2 linked regions of the Homo sapiens genome follow. The protein of the gene in region 2 purifies or fractionates together with the protein of the main gene of each other region. This does not show direct contact. Each region holds a gene or a part of one and is shown on either strand. Other genes may lie near its edges.

Region 1 (3,500 bases), on a different chromosome or scaffold from region 2:
TCTTAGAGATGGAGGTGATAAGAAAGTGCCTGCCTCAGAAGTTTGTTGGGAAGGTTAGATAGAATGTTATGCAGGCTGAATATCCCTTATCTGAAATTCCTGGGGCCAGAAGTGTTTCCTATTTTGGATTTTTTTGGATTTTGGAATATTTGTATATACATAACATATCTTAGGGATGGAACTCAAGTCTAATGACAAAACTCATTTCTGTTTCATATATAATTTATACACATAGGCTGAAGGTAATTCTATAGCATATTTAAAATAATTTTGTGCATGAAACAAAGTTTTGACTGTGTTTTGACTGCGACCTGTCACCTGAGGTCAAGTGTCGAATTTTCCACCTGTGGTATCATGTTGGGGCTGAAAAAGTTTTGGATTTTGGAGCATTTCAGATTTCACATTTTCAGATTATGGATCCTCACCCTGTGTACAAAACACTTAGGATAGTTCCAAGCACTGAAGGTGTGCCCCATAATTGGCAGATGTCATCATGTTCAGACAACTGCTGACGGACTAAGCCATGAAGGCAGAAGAATCAAGGGGCTCAACAAAGGCTGGACCAGAGGAGAAATCTTCACCCCATCTGGGCAGCGCCCAGTCAACATTTGCTGATTGAAGTGAGTATGGGGCAACAAACAGGGCCTGATATGTGGAGGGCTCCCTGGGTGCCGGGACAAGGTTCCCTTGTAGGCTCGGCTGCCTGGGTGTGGGGTGCATAGAGCAGCTCATGGCCGTGAAGTGGGATTGAGCACTGCTTCCGTGAGCATGGCGGAAGGTCAGGCTGAAGGTCATGATGGGCGCTGGGGAATCTAGGGCCTGGAGAGGACATCACAGAAACAGTGGCTCTTGGGTTTGTCCTGGGTAGGGCAGGAGGTAAGGGATTGAGAAAGAGAGCTCGGGGAGAAAAGGCTCAGGGAAAAGAAAAGGCTCAGGGAGAAAGAAGACAGAGAGGGTTCCAGTGAGCAGGAGCTGCCTCCTGGGGCTGCTAGGCTGGGGTGTGGTACACAGGGTGGGGTAAGGGGAGCTTTGGCCTTTGGTGGCCCCGCATTGCAACAGCCCTTATATGCAACAGCCCTTACTCGGGTAGTTCCTGCAACCTCCCGCGGTGGAGCCCCGCCTCCAGTTCCCATCCATTTTGGTGAGTTTCCACTTCTTGTAGGTATCGCTGGTGAGAGTGTCTGGGGTCAGGTTACAGATCTCCAGGCGGGAATAGTGCCTCAGGAAGTCACTGAAAGACATCCTGGCAAAAGCAGAGACAATCATCACAGGTGATAAGAAGACACACTGGTAAGCCTTGACTTTCCACCAACACCAGACCAGGAGCCACCCAAAGCCAGGCAGAGCAGCTCATTAGAACTGAGTGGATGGGCACCAGGTTCAGAATCAGAAGGCCCAGATTCCAGTCCTGGCGCTGCAACTTTCTAGCTGGGTGACTTTGAGCAGGTTACTTAAACTTCTCTGAAGCTCAGAACTCTCACCTGCAAAAATGGGAGCCGTGCCCATCAAATGTGACAATATATGGGCCCCATTTGATAAAGAGCATGTTGTGTCCAGGTGCAGGTGGTTATAGAGTGGCGCAGACACACAGACATGTGGGTCCATTGCTGCTCACTAAGGGACCAGTTTCTTAAGGGGCTGGGATGAGTCTCCGGAACCTGGGGGAGAAAGGCCCCATCTTTCCCTTGTTTCCTGGGATCTGAACATTACCAAAGGAATTCCTCTTAGCCTTTTTCTGAAGCTGCTCAGCTTATAAACCCCATTGTCAAGATGGACCGTTGAAGGGGCTTAAGAATTTCTTTATTCAGGCTCTTATAGTGAACTTAAAATAACAAAACCAGGATCCCACACGCTTGTGTCCTCGACATGGTAAACTCACTTTGGCCGACACTCTTTCTAATTAGCAGTTTTCTAGTAAAGAACATTGGGGCAGACAGAGCTTTCCCTGAAGCCTCCACTAATCTTACCAGAATTCTCCATCTTCATGCCGTCTGGTCAGCCTTTCCCTCTCCTCTGGGTCTATAGTGTTCCAGCTTGGGCAGCTGGAAAACAAAGTAAAGAGAGAGGCGTTAGTGTACGATGATTTCTCCCCAAAGGCCCCAGAGTTGAGGAAGAGGGACATCTGCTCTCACCTCTGAGGGCTCAGGCTCCAGAAAGGGGGAAAGTAGCCCACATCTGGCTAACAGCTGCATTTTAATACTCTTACAGCACTTTAAAGAGTATAGAACACTATACAGATGCAAACCAGGGAGCAAAGTGAGCGGGTGAGTTGTGCTGGAAGACAGTGGCAAGGAAGAGTCCAGAAAATGAACATAGTTCATTAGAGGGAGATGGAGTAGCTCAGAGCAGTTGCCCAATTGAGATGGGCCTGGCAGCTCTTTTAGAGACAACTGAAGATCTGATGAGGAGCCTCCGGCTGAGGCCTGGGAAGCCTCAGCAGGTGTCTCTCTGTCCACGGAGCAGAAGGACCTGGCCCTGTACACAGGGGCAGTGCACAGGGTAAACTAACCACTGCCTGAGCTTTGGCTGGAATTACACACAGGCCTCTGTACTGCCCACCTCTCCAACCTGAGGCAGAGCAAGTAGGCTGAGGTTGCCACAGCAGATGTACAAACAAGTGTTTACCCCAAATAGTTGAGGGTTCAACATGCCTACCAGTAAGCCCTGGAAATCAACAGAGGGATGTTTCTCTGGCCTTTGGTACAAAGTTCACATCCCTGTAATAGAAGTGCCTGGGGGAAGGTGGGGTGTATTTTTTTCCCTGAAAGCCCCATAGAAGGGTGGATTTGAGCTAGGGAAGGGGTGAACCTGGAGGCAGTGGCAGGAATGAACTTCACACGAGCAGCTTGGGGCCTGGAAGAAGGCACTCAGGCTGCTGGAGGAGTGTCCTGGTTAAAAGACCCTTTGAGGGGCCCCTGTCCACGGGTCCCTGTCCACGTGGCCTGGGCTCTCCTGGCTATATTTCTCAGAATAATGCACATGTCTTCTTCTCTCGCCCTCTTCCCAGAGCCTCCCAGCACAATGCACCCCCGCCTGGGGCCCCGAGGCCTGCGCCCTCCTCACTTGTCATTCCACCGCCCTGTCCACTCCACTTCTCCCCAGGGATTTCGGATGCGGATCAGTTTCTGTAGGCTTCCGTTACTTTCAACCTGCAGGATTAGATAAAAGGGAGGAGTAAGAGGTTGAGTTCAAGTCAGGGCTATGAAGGCTTGGGCCTCCAACCCCCTTCCGCATGAGCCAGGAGGTATGGGGCTGAGGACGGTGGGGAGGATTTGGGGGTTGAGTCCATGTATGAGGGAGGATCACAAGAGCTAGAGGGGGCTTGGCACCCAGACCTCTCACTGCTGCCTAGCTTTGGAAAATGAGATTTAAAGCTCCCAGGATCCGGCTCTCGAGGATGGGGCTGTTGGTGCTTCATCTCTGAACTTCAGCTTAACTGACAGGATGCGCTTTTGGTAAAGGAGCTCAGAGAAGCTTTACCATTTGTTGAAAGATCACTG
Region 2 (3,500 bases):
AAAAAAAAGGTAGATAGTGGTTGCCAGAAGCTAGGTGGAGGAAGAAATGGGAAGTGACTGCTAACGGGTAGTTTTTTTCGGAGGGTGATGAAAATATTCTGGAATTAGATGGTGATGGTGCTCGGACAACCTTGTAAATCTATTAGAAACCACTGAATTGTACACTGTACAATGATGCGTTTCATGGTAGGTGAATTATAACTCAATTGAGAAAATAATAAAAGCAGGAGCTCTGCCATCAGCCTTGATGAGGCTGAATGCTGGCTCTATCGTTCACTATCTGGGCCTCACCGTCTGAAATCACACCCACCTCACAAGGGCGTTGTGGGGATGAACTAAGCAAAGGCTCACGATGCCTTTAGCACAGTACATGGCAATGAATACAACAATGAATGTTGGCTTTGGTTCATATGAGTACTAGAAATGATTAAATAAGACCCCTGCTAAGAAAAAGAAAAGCCGGGCGCCTAGTAGGCACTGAATGCCCCCTTCCCTGTAAGGCACCCTCGAGGTCTCCGAGTCTGGAGCCTGTAATCAGGCATAGACTCAAGATGAACATGAGCCGACATTTTCTGCCTCGCACAGGGACAGCTCAGCTTCTGTGTGCAAAGGGCTGAGCCGCCGACTTCACGGTTCAGTTTTCCCTGCCACGTGGGTACAGCCACCCTCTCCTTTTACGGAAGACGGTCTGAGAGGCTGCTGGCTTGAGTTTTCTCTGAGCAGAGCTGGGCACATTTACGCAACAGATAAGCCTGCCCTACCCGGGTCGGATCCACCCGGGAAGAGAGAAAGTGTGTGCAAGTGAAAGCTCACAAATGTGTGTTTCAACTCCCAGAAAAGCTTAACGGAGTCAGCCCACAGCACCAGGGGCCATGGAGAGCCATCCTAAGCCTTTCCCTGCATCAACTATCCCTCCCCAGTGCAGATATCTCAGCAGCAGCAGTCCATGGAGCTGTCAACTTCAGTCCGTGGGACTCTGAAGCAAGGACTCTGATAAGGTAACTCAGGAAATGGGCTAATTTTAAACACAGCTCGAATACTGTGATGTGAATGGAAACAACTGAGGAAGGAAACAGACTAAAACTCATCTATTACAAATTTGCAAAGGTTTGACCATAACAAGGGTTGGTGTGGAACAAAGGCAACCTGCACATACTTCCGATGGGAGTGTGAACTGGCATGACCACGGATGGCAACTTGGCAGAATCTCGTATATGGGAAAACGCACACATCTCTCCGCCTGGTGATCTCAGCCCTAGGTACACAGCTTAGAGCCTAGAGAAACTTGTGCATGCGCTGAATGAGTTGTTCTAGAGAAAGTTCACCAAGGCATTGTTTGTCACTTGAAACATTAGAAACACAAATGCCTATCAAAAGCAGAATAGATGAATTAACTAGGGAGCTTTTATACTCTGTAAGAAACCAGAGCAGTTTAATGAAACAGTTACGTAGATCAACATTTTTAAAATCTCAAAAATACAATGTTGAGCTAAAAGAAAGTAAATGGCGGAAGGATACATACAGTATAGCACCATTTATAAGAGTTTAAAACTGGCTGAGTGTGGGGGCTCAGGCCTATAATCCCAGAACTTTGGAAAGAGGCCTAGGCAGGTGGATCACTTGAGGTCAGGATTTTGAGACCAGCCTGACCAACATGGTGAAACCCCGTCTCTACTAAAAATACAAAAAAATTAGCCAGGTATGATCTCAGCTACTCAGGAGGCTGAGGCAGGAGGATTGCTTGAACCCAGGAGGCAGAGGTTGCTGTGAGCTGAGACCGTGCCACTGCACTCCAGCCTGGGCAACAAAATGAGATTCCATCTCAAAAAAAAAAAAAAAAAAAAAAGTTTAAAACCACACAAAGCAATACCATATATTGCTTAAACACATAGTCAGTATAGCACCATTTACAAAAGATCAAAACCATATATCTATAAAGCAATACCATATACTGTTTATAGACATATGCATATGTAATAAAAGCGTAAAAACATGCATGAAAAGATAAACACCAAATTCAGGACAGAGGTCACCTCCGAAGGGAGAAGCAGCAAACTATCTCAGAGATGGCATAGAAAGGGCTTCAACTGTGTCTGTAATGTAATTGTAATTGTGTCTATAACTTCTCAAGCTGAGTAGCAGACTCAGAGGTGTTTATGTGAACCTCAATCTTCTTTTATGTGCCTCAAATATTTCATAATAAAAAATTAACTCAAATGTATTGATTTGTGAGGGGACAGTATTAAAATACAGGTTCCAAGGTAAAACATTAAAATCAACAAGGACAGGTTTTTCTCCTAAAAGAAGGAAACAGAGGAAGCAAGAAGAGCCCTCTGAATCCTATTCCTGATTTTCTTTCGACCTTAGAAAAATGTTTTATCTCCTCTGGATGGGCCTTCAGTCTCTGTTTCTAAATGGGGAATAAATTGCTTGCCTTCTGTCTGCAACACACAAGGCAGGCAGCAGGATGCCCTGGGGAGGGAGCCGTGCTGGGAAGCCCGGGAATAATACTTCCTGTACTGACAACCTCGCTGAGGCTTTTGAAAGAGCATATGAAAGCATACACACACCTACACATATGTTAGTATAGTTGTGTGCAGAAACATTTATAGTGTAATCTCAATTACATATATATATAATTCATACCCGACATGACACTCACGAAGTGTTCCAGGATGCCCAGAGACAAAAAGCCATTAAAAAAAAAAAAAGCGGCCAGGCGCGGTGGCTCACGTCTGTAATCCCAACACTTTGGGAGGCCGAGGCGGGTGAATCACGAGGTCAGGAATTCAAGACCAGCCTGGCCAACACGGTGAAACCCCGTCTCTACAAAAAATACAAAAAATTAGCTGGGTGTAGTGGCAGGCACCTGTAATCCCAGCTACTAGGGAGGCTGAGGCAGAAGAATCGCTTGAACCTGGCAGGCAGAGGTTGCAGGGAGGTGAGATCGTGCTACTGTACTACAACCCAGGCGACAGAGTAAGACTCTGTCTCAAAAAAAAAAAATGCAGTCCAGAGGCAGTAGCTGGCACCCGTAATCCCAGCATTTCGGGAGGCCAAGGCGGGCAGATCACTTGCGGTCAGGAGTTTGAAACCAGCCTGGCCAACATGGTGAAACCCAGTCTCTATTTAAAATACAAAAATTAGCCGGGCATGGTGGCAGGCGACTGTAATCCCAGCTACTGGGGGGCAGGGGGGGGCACTGAGGCAGAAGTATCACTTGAACCCGCGAGATGGAGGTTTCAGTGAGCTGAGATCACACCACTGCACTCCAACCCAGGATACAGAGTGAGACCCCATCTCAAAAAAAAAAAAAAAAATGCAGGCCAGGAGCATTGGCTGGTGCCTGTAATCCCAGCTACTCAGGAGGCTGAGGCAGGAGAATCGCTTGAACCCAGGAGACAGAGGTTGCAATGAGCCGAGATCACATCACTGCATTCCAGCCTGGGCAACAGAGCAGAACTCCATCTCAAAAAAAAAGAATAAGAAAATACATGGCC

The links. Proteins that work in one complex are often made in the same cells at the same time.
Region 1: the proteins of HK1 (region 2) and CAPN2 fractionate together in Homo sapiens (co-fractionation; one large-scale study listed by BioGRID). This does not show direct contact.

What each region holds. Positions count from the first base shown.
Region 1 is NC_000001.11:223,750,539-223,754,038, reverse strand, and holds part of CAPN2 (calpain-2 catalytic subunit), read right to left. Parts: intron 3,150-3,500; coding exon 3,064-3,149; intron 2,043-3,063; coding exon 1,968-2,042; intron 1,244-1,967; coding exon 1,083-1,243; intron 1-1,082. UniProt on the Homo sapiens protein: Calcium-regulated non-lysosomal thiol-protease which catalyzes limited proteolysis of substrates involved in cytoskeletal remodeling and signal transduction. Proteolytically cleaves MYOC at 'Arg-226'.
Region 2 is NC_000010.11:69,325,347-69,328,846, reverse strand, and holds part of HK1 (hexokinase-1), read right to left. Parts: intron 1-3,500. UniProt on the Homo sapiens protein: Catalyzes the phosphorylation of various hexoses, such as D-glucose, D-glucosamine, D-fructose, D-mannose and 2-deoxy-D-glucose, to hexose 6-phosphate (D-glucose 6-phosphate, D-glucosamine 6-phosphate, D-fructose 6-phosphate, D-mannose 6-phosphate and 2-deoxy-D-glucose 6-phosphate, respectively).